2 separate regions of the Homo sapiens genome follow, and region 1 is linked to region 2. The links come from fine-mapping of genetic effects on gene expression. A gene starts in region 2. The other region holds a variant in brackets. All regions are shown on one strand. Distances are between the middles of the regions.

Region 1 (5,374 bases), 240 kb before region 2:
GCAGCAAAGGTGTAGGACAGGCCCACCGAGGGGCAGGCAGTCCCTCCTCGCACGGGGCTCCCCTTCTCAGGAGTGCGATGGCTCATGCTTCTGGGAATGTGGTGGGGAAAAGCTCACTTGGAATCTCTTTGAGAGCCACGGAATGGTTCCTAGGAAGCCGTGGAAGTTCACATCCTGCTTGACAAATTCTTTTAAGTTTAACAAGGGTAATGGAGGGATATGTAGCCATTAACCCAGTAAATGAGGAACAGTGCCTTTTGTCAGTGCCATTTTATACTAAGCCATTTCTTCAGAAGCTGAACTCTTAACCTCAATACTTCATTATTTCTCTTGTTAAGATATTACGACAAAAGATGGAGATCAAATACAACTAGCAGATGCCTTAGAGTGAGCTCTAGCCAAGATGGCTGCCAACTGTAATGGTTCTTTGAAAACTGAAGGGGGGAATTTGCTACATTTGATAGAAATCAGCACAAATAAGCTATAACCTGGTTGTTCTTTTCAAAGTGTTCCTCCCACGCCCCCACGTAGGGCTTAGAGCATATGTCTCCATTCTGACTATGTATGAGAGTCACCTAGAACACTGTGGTGTCAGCAGAGATTCATGATTTAATTGGTGTAGGGTGTGGTCTCACACCTGGCTAGAAAATGCAGCCCTGATAAACGTACCCCTATGTTCACACCTGTGTTGGGACAGCCAAGACCACTCCTCTTCCCCATTCTTAGGGCTATTCCCCAACCTTCAACCCCCAATGCCCCACCACCATGCTCCATCAAAGGGCTTGTGTGCTGGCTTCCCTGGGCACACTCATCTTCTTCTGGCTGCCCTGACGGAAACTTTGTCATAGTGATTCTGAAAGAACACAGCCAAGCTCCCTGGCTGCCATTTATTTGGGCGACTGGAAGCTGAGAAGGAAAAAAAATAGGGCAAGAGGAGAAAGTTTTACTTCTGCCCCACCATCCTGTCTATCCACACAACTCATTTTAACAACGACATTGCCACATTTATTCTGCCATTTGTCTCCTACAAAGGATATGTCATTTTCAGCTACAAATAACAGTGATCTACATTAGCCTATGAGAAGTTTATGATCATGCTGGGAGATATGGAACCCAGGTTAGCCTATGCACGTTTCATAAATAAATAAATAAGATTCCAAAGATTAGGTGACTTAAATCAGGCCTCCCAGACTTTGGGACTTAATACATTGGGAAAAGAAAAAAAATGTAATAGTGAGACAGGCATATTTATTTTGTCCATTGACATTTTTAAATACCACCTACTATCACTATAATTTCAAAATGAAGGAGATTTTAACAACAACAAAAAGAAAAGAAAGACCCTTATCTCAGAATTAAGAAAGTCCTTACAATTGAATAAACGCAGGCTTAGAGAAAATTAAATCCATTGTTTTTCTTTTTCTGCATTTTAATGCACATGGTAAAAACTTTGTCATAGACTAGCATGGTCCAAGGACCTGCATCTGGGAACTATTGAGTTAGAGCACAGAATTTCAGAATTACAAAATACCTTATAAATAACCATGTTCAACCACCCCTATGATGCTTGAGTTCCTTGTACAATATACTTGACTAATGTATGTCCAGCTAGTTGTAAGAACAGCATTTTGATGAGGCCATTTTGACACATGGACATCTTGACATGTGAAGCATAAAATTATAAATGAGGCTTTCTGGTTACAGCAGAAAATATCAATTACGCTAAAATACAAATAAATAGAAGTAACTATTTTTGTATTTTCAGCTCTAACCCCAGCTCCACCCCAGAGATCTGTCACTCATCTTCAGGGTCATCATATCCCCATCCTTGTGCTACTCAAAAGGGACAAGTGAAGGGTAGGTGGGCCCCAGGGATGGAGCCTGGGTCAGGGAAGAGAAGAGGCAGGCTGAAAGAGGGTGTAAGGAGATGTGCCAACAACATCTGTTTCCCACTTAATTTAAAAGAGAGGAGCAAGTTTAATAGTAGGAATGAAACCATTTGCTATGTTCTGCTCTTGCCCAAAGGGTTTGATTCTATCCTAAAAGGCATTTGGTGTCAAAATGACCACCTCAATGCATGGCATCAAAATTTCCATGGCATCAAAACACCCATGTCAGAATTGCAGAATTTGGTGTAATTATCCCCAACAGCAACAATCTGAAGTATCTTTAGACATTTGCAACTATAAGAAAGATCCTTCTGACATGCAATTAAAATGCATTTCTGCATGGCTTCTGCTGGGGTCCCAGACTTCACTTCTAAGGCCTCATAAAAGGAATCTAATTCCTCTTCCCCATGACAGCTCTTGCAGATTAGTCACTCCTT[T/C]CCCCAAATCACTTCTTCAGGACAGTGGCCTCAGTTCCTCCTAGAGTTCCTGATGCGACATGGTTTCATATCCCCTCTCTGCCCTGGATACTGCCCTCTGAAAGTGTTTTGACTTATCTATATTGCTCATCAAGTGTGGCACCCAGAACTGAATTTAGTTCTCCAGGCATGACCTTTCTGGTGGACCCCTCACCCACTCCATTCTAGATGGTGTCCTCTGTTCATGCACCCTAAGAGTGCACTAGGGTTTTGCCAACCACATCACACCACTGATGTTACAACTATGTTGTCAGCACATGGATTCCAACCTGGGTATCCCAGCTTCTAAGTGGGACCCCTTTGCATTGAGTCACACACCCTGGAGGCTTCCAGGGCACCTGCCTAGTAGTAAAGATAGGTGTAAGCACATCTTTGCTGCTAACAGCTCCAGAATGAGCCACAGAAGTTCAACTGAAGATGCTGTCCTTTCCTGTGCCCCAGAGAGTACTGGTGAGACATTCTATCCTCCATGTGTAACCAGAAAGGACTCCAGCTGATCATGGACCACATTTCATTCCTTCCTGCTACCAGTCATAATCCCCATGGCACAGTTATTGCTTGCAGGAATAGAAAAACCAGCAATTCTCAACGAACTATGTGCTCTCCCAGGCCTCCCAACCCCCATACTGTCCTTGCTGTTTGCCTACCTGGGGACAACATACAGGTGTCTAAACCCCTCCCAGAGTCACAGACAGCCCTGAGAACAGTAGGGGGACTTGACATAGTGACATTCAATGCTTGAATAAGCAGCAAAAATTAGAGAAATTTCCAAGAGGAATGGAATCAGTAGGAGATACATCATTCACCACTTTTGATTGACTTTCCCACAGCATGAAAATTTCTCTTCTGCTATGAAAGAAAGTTTCCCTGACTCTTCCCCCACTTCCCTCACTGTATTTCCCTTTAAAATATCTCACAGGGTAGGTGAAACAGTCATTACAACATTAAAGCTCTGAAATGTTCATGGATACACATTAAACAATGGATCCCCGTAGCAAACTTACTCATGGTGAAAAATCCTGATTAAGCTGGCCTTTGACTATAGATGCATGAATATAAGCATGCACACATAAAACACACACACACACACACACACACACACACACACGCATGCATACACACCAACTGTAAAACATCCAGGATAGGTTTTCTCTAGAACGAGGGCTTTGGCTGTGAGCAGTTCCCCATTAGTGGTAACCATTGCAAGATGACAATGATTCACCATATACCTCATTTAGAACAAAATAACTCCGATGAGGGTCCCAGAAGGATGCAGTTCATCCACTAAAAAAGTGCATCTAAACTCCTCAAGCATTCGTCTTCCCCCCCACCCCCATTAATTCTGGTTTCTGCCAGAAGCCAGCCTGCCTAATTCTCTTTATTGCCGTTAATATTAATAAAGATGGTGGGACTAATGAGAAGAAAATGTGTTTCAGCACAGGGGAGACCATCCCCTGCTGCAGAACAGGGCTTCAGCATTCAGATTTCATTAGCATTAATGTGACTTCTGCCAGTGAAAGATTTGCACGTGGAGGCAGGACTCTGCTTAGACACACACATTGTTTTTCTCCCATTACATGGACATTTTTAAGGATATTCAAAATACAACACAAATTAGGCATGTCGCGAGGCTACAGAACACACTGTTGACTGTGAAAAATGTCAAGGTGGCAGTGGATAAGGAATTCGTGGCATGGCAGGTTCCTTCCCTGGGTGGCAGAAGTTTGAGTTTAGACACTCCCCAGGGATTTCCACTTGGTTTCACGGCTTGGAAAGAAGCTTGCCCATAATCCCTTGGCCTGAAAGAAACCAGATGGCCAGAAGGCAGTTCTCTGTTCTTTGCCTCCACAGACAGGAGAGGGAGAGGGATAATGGTCAGAAAGCCCATTCCAGGCCTGTGTTAGGGGTGAGAAAAGCCACAGGTGCCAGGCTCTCTGAGCACATGGCCAGAAATACCTCCCCAGGAAGCTCAACCAGGGCTCTGTAGCGTCACGCAGGCATAGTGAGATGAAGGCATGCTGCTTATGGTAGCGTTCTTAAGGTCCACTGATGATGGTGCTGTTCTTTTATGTTGCTCCCTGCAATAGCATGCCTTTCTCAGAAAGAAAAGTAGTCAAGGCCTGCTTAGGCGGTGCCAGTGAGTGTGCGCATGAGATAGAATCTGCTTTGCTTCCTTCTTGGTGAGTTGCTGTGCTTCTCCACGTGTGTGTGTGTGTGTGTGTGTGTGTGTGTGTGTGTGTAAGAGAGAGAGAGAGCACATCAGTGGAGCTTAGTGATGGCAAGGGCTGGCTGAAGTGGCCAAGCCCCAAACCAATGAACCTGGGTTTACCATTCACATCACTCCCTGAGTATCTGAGACTGGCCGTAATGTTGTTACATACATGCATGTGTGCACACAACTGAATGCACACACATGCAGAAACTGGGTAAGAAAAAGGGTCACTGTCATATTCTCTTGATCTTGGGGAGGACAGAAAACTCTAGGATAGGAATGAACAGAGCATAAGGATCCTTGGCCACCTAGGCCCATTCTCTTTCACTTAAGGCTGACCTGGTACATGCTCCGCAAGCTCACACACCTTTCCACGACAAACAGCATCACTAGCACACCAAAGGCAACACCAATGTCCACTCCTTGGGTCTTTGGGTGCTAATAAGCTATCTCATTGATCAGAAGTCCCATATCACTTACACCTCGTAGTCCTAGATTTGTGAACTGCTAAACATCAGTTTTGCCCCTGTATCTGGAGACCCAAAAAAGCTGGAAGGAAAAAGCAGCATTGAATCCATCCCTTTTCTTGAATAAACAATTATTTCACACACAAAAAGAAGAAGACAAAATCTTCTCCAGCAGCATTCTACCAAGCTGTGCAGTTTTACCATTGACCTAGATAACCTGAGTTTCCTGGAAAATTCCAGATGGACTATACCAAATAATACAAAAACACATTCACATTATCCCAATAGATAGATTTTGTGAAATAAAAGTGTATTCATTTTTCTTTAACA
Region 2 (5,374 bases):
ACTAACACTCTGACAATGCCATTTGAGACGCAAAACTAAAAATATCCCAAAACACTTCCTTTATCTTTAAAGAAAGGCACTCCAGCAAGTTGAAGTAGGTTGTATCCATTTCCAAGGACTAAAGAATGGTGTAAGTACACACTGTACTTTGAATGCAAAAAAAGGGGGGAGGATTTTTTTTTTAAATGGCTAATACTCTGTAACAGCTGAAGTGGAATTGATAGATGAGCAAGTAAGTCAAGTACTTAAATTCAAATGTTAAGTAAAACAAGATTTGGCAGACAATTTCGATTTTGTGACTTAATAGAATATATGCTGAACTTAACGGTAAGAAGGCACTTTACTTTTTTGAAACACTTGGTAAAATTGCATGTAATGCCTGGTAATGAAGCGATAAGTGATACCTTTACTCTAAAACACACTTTGGAAAAAATAAAATGAATCTTGAATTCCTTCTAAAGGAACTTCAATAAGGTGTGAGTAACTTAACCCTTTTGACACGCATTAACCACAGGGATGACACTGTGTGTAAAATAACCTTGGTGTTAACAACTGCGCAGCAAAGACCAATCTTTATTATGCCGTGGAGTCCAATATGAGAGGCGAAGAAAGGTATGTTTTAAAAAGGTGTTTAGCTCGGCCGGGAACGGTGGCTCACGCCTGTAATCCCAGCACTTTGGGAGGCCGAGGCGGGCCGATCACGAGGTCAGGAGATCCAGAACATCCTGGCCAACATGGTGAAACCCGGTCTCTACTAAAAACACAAAAATTAGCTCGACGTGGTGGCTCGTGCCTGTAATCCCAGCTACTCGGGAGGCTGAGACAGGAGAATCGCTTGAACCAGAGAGTCGGAGGTTGCAGTGAGCCGAGATCGCGCCACGGTACTCCAGCCTGGCGACAGAGCGAGACTCCGTCTCGGAGGAGGGGAGGGAGGTGTTTAGCTCAACTAGACAGCCTTTACAGCAATTCCGCCACCGGTGACAGTGAGAAACTGTCAGCTTGGGGAGGCCGCGCCACGACTGGACCCCGCCCCCGGGAAGCCTCCCCGGAGCCGAGGGCCCCCGGGCCTTCTCCTCGGAGTCGGGAAGTGCCTGCCCCCACGCTAAGTCTCTCCTGGCCACGCTCTGAAAGGCAAAAATGGCAAAAATCCTCCTTCAAGGCACCGCTCCCTCGACGCGCACCGCCACTCCGACTCCCTCAAAACATTGGTCGCAAAGCCCCCCCGCCTGGTCCTCCATGCTCAAGAATAGGGTGGCAAGGCAGGAAAAGACTCACACATCCCAGCCCCCGGCCCCTCAGGGCAGCCTCTGTGTTTCTAACTAAAAGCCTCCTACCAGGGGCAAGACCAAGTTCGGGCGCTTCCCCGCATGGAGAAACGCTGGCCCCACGGCGCCCGGCCCCGACGCGCTGGCCCTTTAAAGGCGCGGGCTTCCTGCGCCCGGGGCCCCTCCCACGCCACCGCCACCGCCACCGCCACCGCCCGCGCCCGCCCCCGCCGAGGGTCACACTTGAACTTTAGCTCGCCCCGCGCGGCCAGGCGCCGGCGCTCCGCAGGCGGTGGCCGCCCCTTCGCACGTGTCGGAGGCACCACCTCGGGCTCGGGACGCCGGGCCCCCGGCACTCGAGGCCACTCCGGAGAAAACCAAAACAAAGCAAAATGCGCACCGCCTCCAGAAACTGCCCGGCAGGCCCTGCACCGTCCCCGGCCGGTCGCGCCCTGCCTGTCCCCTCCACCTGCAGCCCGGTCCCGGGGCAGCGAGGCTCCGGGGCCCCTCGCCGCGCCCTCCCCCGCCGCGCCCGGCGGAAACAGCTCCGCGGCGCGGCCGGAGAGAACCCGCCCTCCCCCCGCGGAGGTCCGGGAGGGAAGGGGCAGCCGAAGCAGTCGGCGCGGGCCGGGGGTTGCCGCTCCCAGCGAACCCCTTTCTCCTTTCACTGGCAAACTTTTCGGCCTCGCTCTGACGTCCACTTCTTGGCGCACTTTCTTTACTTAGTTCCCCAACGAGCCCCTTACCGCGTCCCACGCGAACTCCTGACTGGCGCGCACGCACACCTACTGCCGTCCCCGACCGGACCCGGGCGAGGCCACCGCGACCACCGCTTCTCGCCCGCCCTCCTGGGAACGCGCTGCCCTCCTGCTCCGCACCTTCAGGCCGAGCAAACCTGCACAGCTGCGCCCTCGCCTGACCCACCGCGCCCCCAAGGTCCGGCCGCGCGCCGAGTCCACTCACCTTCCAGCCCGCCGAGCTGTTGCTGTCACCCTTATCCTTGAAGTAGGGCACGCTCTTGACCATCCACTCGTAGATCTGCGACAGCGTGAGCCGCTTCTCCGCCGAGCTCTCGATGGCCTTGGTGATGAGGTCGGCGTAGGACAGGTTGCCCCACGCGTTGCGGCGGGACGAGCTGCTCTTGCGCGGCTGCCCCGCGAGCGGCCCAGCGGCGGCGGGGGGCACCGGCGGGTGCTGCGACAGCGGCCCGGGCGGCGGGGGCTGCGGTGGCGCTGGGTGCAGGCAGCCCGCCTCCGGGCCCTGGAAGTCCCCGCACAGCCCCCCGGTGGCGGCCGCGGCGGCCGCCGCCGCCACCGCCGCCGCCACGGAGCCGGGCGCCTGCGGGAAGTCCTCGCTCTCCTCCAGCAAGCTCAGGTTGCTCATGAAGTCGGCGCTGACAGCGGCAGCCGAGGCCGAGGGCAGGCCCGCCGCGGCGTCGGGGTTGGCAGCCGCGCTGCCCGACGGCGCCGGGCTGGAGGTGGCCGAGTTGGACTGGCTAAACTCCGGCCTGGGCAGCGGCCAGGTGCACGAGCGCGGCCGGGGCAGCGGCTCGAAGTCCGGGTCGATCTCCACCACCTGAGGCGCCTCGGCCATGGTGACCCCCGCCCCTCCCCCAGCCGCAGGAGAGCCAAGAGGGGGAGAACGCAGCACTGGGGGCGGACGGGGAGGGGGCGCGAAGGGACGGTCCGAGATTTGGGGGAACGAAGCCGGTGCGGCGAGCGGACGGAAACTGGGAGGAAGGCGCGGCGGAGTGGAAGCGCGAGCCCAGAACTTAACTTCGCGGGGCCATCCACATCGAGGCTCCTCGGGGTCCGCCGCACGGACTGGACGGCCGGCCAGAGCCGCCGGGCCGGGGCAGAGCCTGCGCCGCGCTCCAGCTGACAGGGCCGCGGACGGAAGGACGGACGGACGCCGCGGGCCGCTTGCTCTCCCCAGCGGCGCGCCCGCTGCGCTGCTGCCTGTTGAATGTGGCGGCTGCGGCAGCGGCTGCTGCGACTACCAGGCCGCCCGACTTACGGGATCTGCCGCCGCCCCCCGCCCGCGGCGGCGCGCGCGCCGGCCCGCCCCTGACCGACAGCCCGCGCGGCCAATGGGCATGCGGCACCGCCGCCCGGGCAGCCAGTGGGCGCCGGGCTGGGTGGGGCCCGGTTTTCCACGGGGAGGCGGCGGTGGGCTGGTGGGGGGTAGTGGGGTGTTTTTCTCTTTCACACACTCACCTCCTTTTTTTTTTTTTGGATCTCTATTATTTTCTGGTAATTCTCGAGTGTTTCTGTGATTCTCTCGCCTTCTCAGTGTTTTGATTGCTAGGAAGCAAACCAGCGTGGAGGCGCCGGCGACACTTTGTTTACTACGGAGCAGCAGAGCCGAGTACTCGGGAAGCCCGGGTGGGAGGAGGCGCTCGCTGCTCCCTGACCTCCGCTGCGGGCCGAGCCCGGCGGGCTGGCAGGGCAGGGGGCCGAGGGCCGGGGGCGCGGGGTGGGCGGGCGGAGGCGGCCGCGAGGAATTCTACTCAATCGCTCCCTCCTGGCTCCACCCACGATGTCTTTGCTGAACGACGTGGGGAATCGGTGGGTTTTGTTTTGGTTTAATGTTTTCTTTCGCTGCGATCTGTCAAGTCCTCCGGCCCCCTCGCGAGCGGCACACGCCCCCCACCCCCGGCGCCGCGGCTCCTGCAGTCGAGTCCGCGCCGAGGGACCCTTCTCCGTGCCCACCGGTCCGCACCCCCGGGCTCAGCCTGTGCCATTCGGTCTAGCCAGAGGCGCGTCACCCAGCCGGCAGCCCCCAGCCGGATTCACTGTATTCTTGACCTTTTTTAAAATGCTAGAAATGAGGAACAGGGGCTCCGGCGCGGGGAGGAGATTATCTGGCCTCCCTGAACACACGAATCCAAAGGCACCCGCGACCGCATGCCCTCCGTGGGAACCTCTTCCCCTGGGCGGGAATCTCCCGCTCCGTCCACTAAGTCCAGGGCCGGCAGCGAAGGGCTCAGGAGCGCAGTTAGAGAGAACCAGGTCATTTTATTACTTATCCCTAATTAAATTTAGCTGTTTGTTACTTCTTTTTTATTTGCAACGGAAGTGATCGGGTGTTAAGTAAAAACGCAAGGGGGGCGGGAGATAGGACCAAAGCCTTGGGGCGCAGCCTGCCCCACCCCCAAATTCCTTGAGGCTACTTGCTGTGTGTGTCAGTCAACCCCCCACCCACACCCCACCTTTCCTCATCTGGGCTGCAGGTCCAGGACATCCTGTCAAGGATCAGTGGGGCCAAAGGTGGGAAGATAATGGCCCTTGTGTCTCAAGCAGAAGAAACAGTTTTCCAGTTTTGTTTTGTTATGCTTTTGCTTTTTTAGGAAGAATATGGAAGGCATTTCCTTTTAGAAAGATGGGACCACTTAGGATGGAAGATGGACAGTAGGGTTTTAAATATCTTGTCCAAAAGGACAGCTTCCAACTCTTGTTTTTTAATCCCTTTCTTTCTTACAAGTAATTCTGCAATGGAAAAAGTGGCATCTAGAGAAAATTAGTCAGTTGGACAAGAGGTTGTTGAAAAAATAAAAGAGAAAAGAGGGGAAAAAAGGAAAAATTAGGCCTCTTACAAAAGTTAAAAAGATTGAGAGAGATTATCTTTCTTCTTTTATATTCTCACTATCGTCTCTCTAGTCCGGGCTCCTGTTTCTTCATAATCTATTTATCACAACAGCTTCTTGCTGATACTAGGCATGGGTGGGGTGGGGAGCGTGAGCCGGATGGATTGGGGACGGGCGGGGACTGGTTCCCACCCTGGTCTTGTGGTCTCTTCACGTTTACTATCAAATTTGGACAGTCTGGGCCTCCTCTGACAGCCGCTAGGGGACCTCAGTAACTCAGATGATGAGCTCAAAGGCAGGCCCCCAAAGTACAGCTGTTGCTTCCCCCCACCTTTCCAATTACACTCTGCAGAAGCAGCCCCCGATCCAGACAGCCGCACCCTAAAAATAGGCGGTGCCCTACTGGATCATTCTTGGCAAAGGAAGCCAGCTTCAAATTTGGCCTTGCCTTCATTTCTATTCCGGTTTTTCAGGGCGTCAGAGAATATTTATTTGGTTAAAGGAGTCTTCCTACAGACTTTCC

Evidence for each region.
Region 1: its variant is fine-mapped to the expression of FOXO1 in monocytes (TOPMed, PIP above 0.99). The same link has a PIP of 0.9 or more in blood mononuclear cells and whole blood.

Annotation. Positions count from the first base shown.
Region 1 is chr13:40,426,178-40,431,551 of GRCh38, forward strand. All of the region lies in intron 6 of LINC00598 (long intergenic non-protein coding RNA 598), which reads right to left. Among named protein-coding and RNA genes, the nearest start is that of LINC00598, 52 kb to the right of the region's middle. The variant T/C (reference allele first, on the strand shown) is at 2,327.
Region 2 is chr13:40,663,355-40,668,728 of GRCh38, forward strand. It overlaps FOXO1 (forkhead box O1), which reads right to left and starts at 3,287. Exons shown (of 3, transcript NM_002015.4): 1 at 2,229-3,287. The coding sequence starts at 2,858. RefSeq lists silencers at 1,026-1,105, 1,406-1,915, 2,436-2,485, 2,576-2,715, 2,946-3,475 and an enhancer at 4,126-4,175.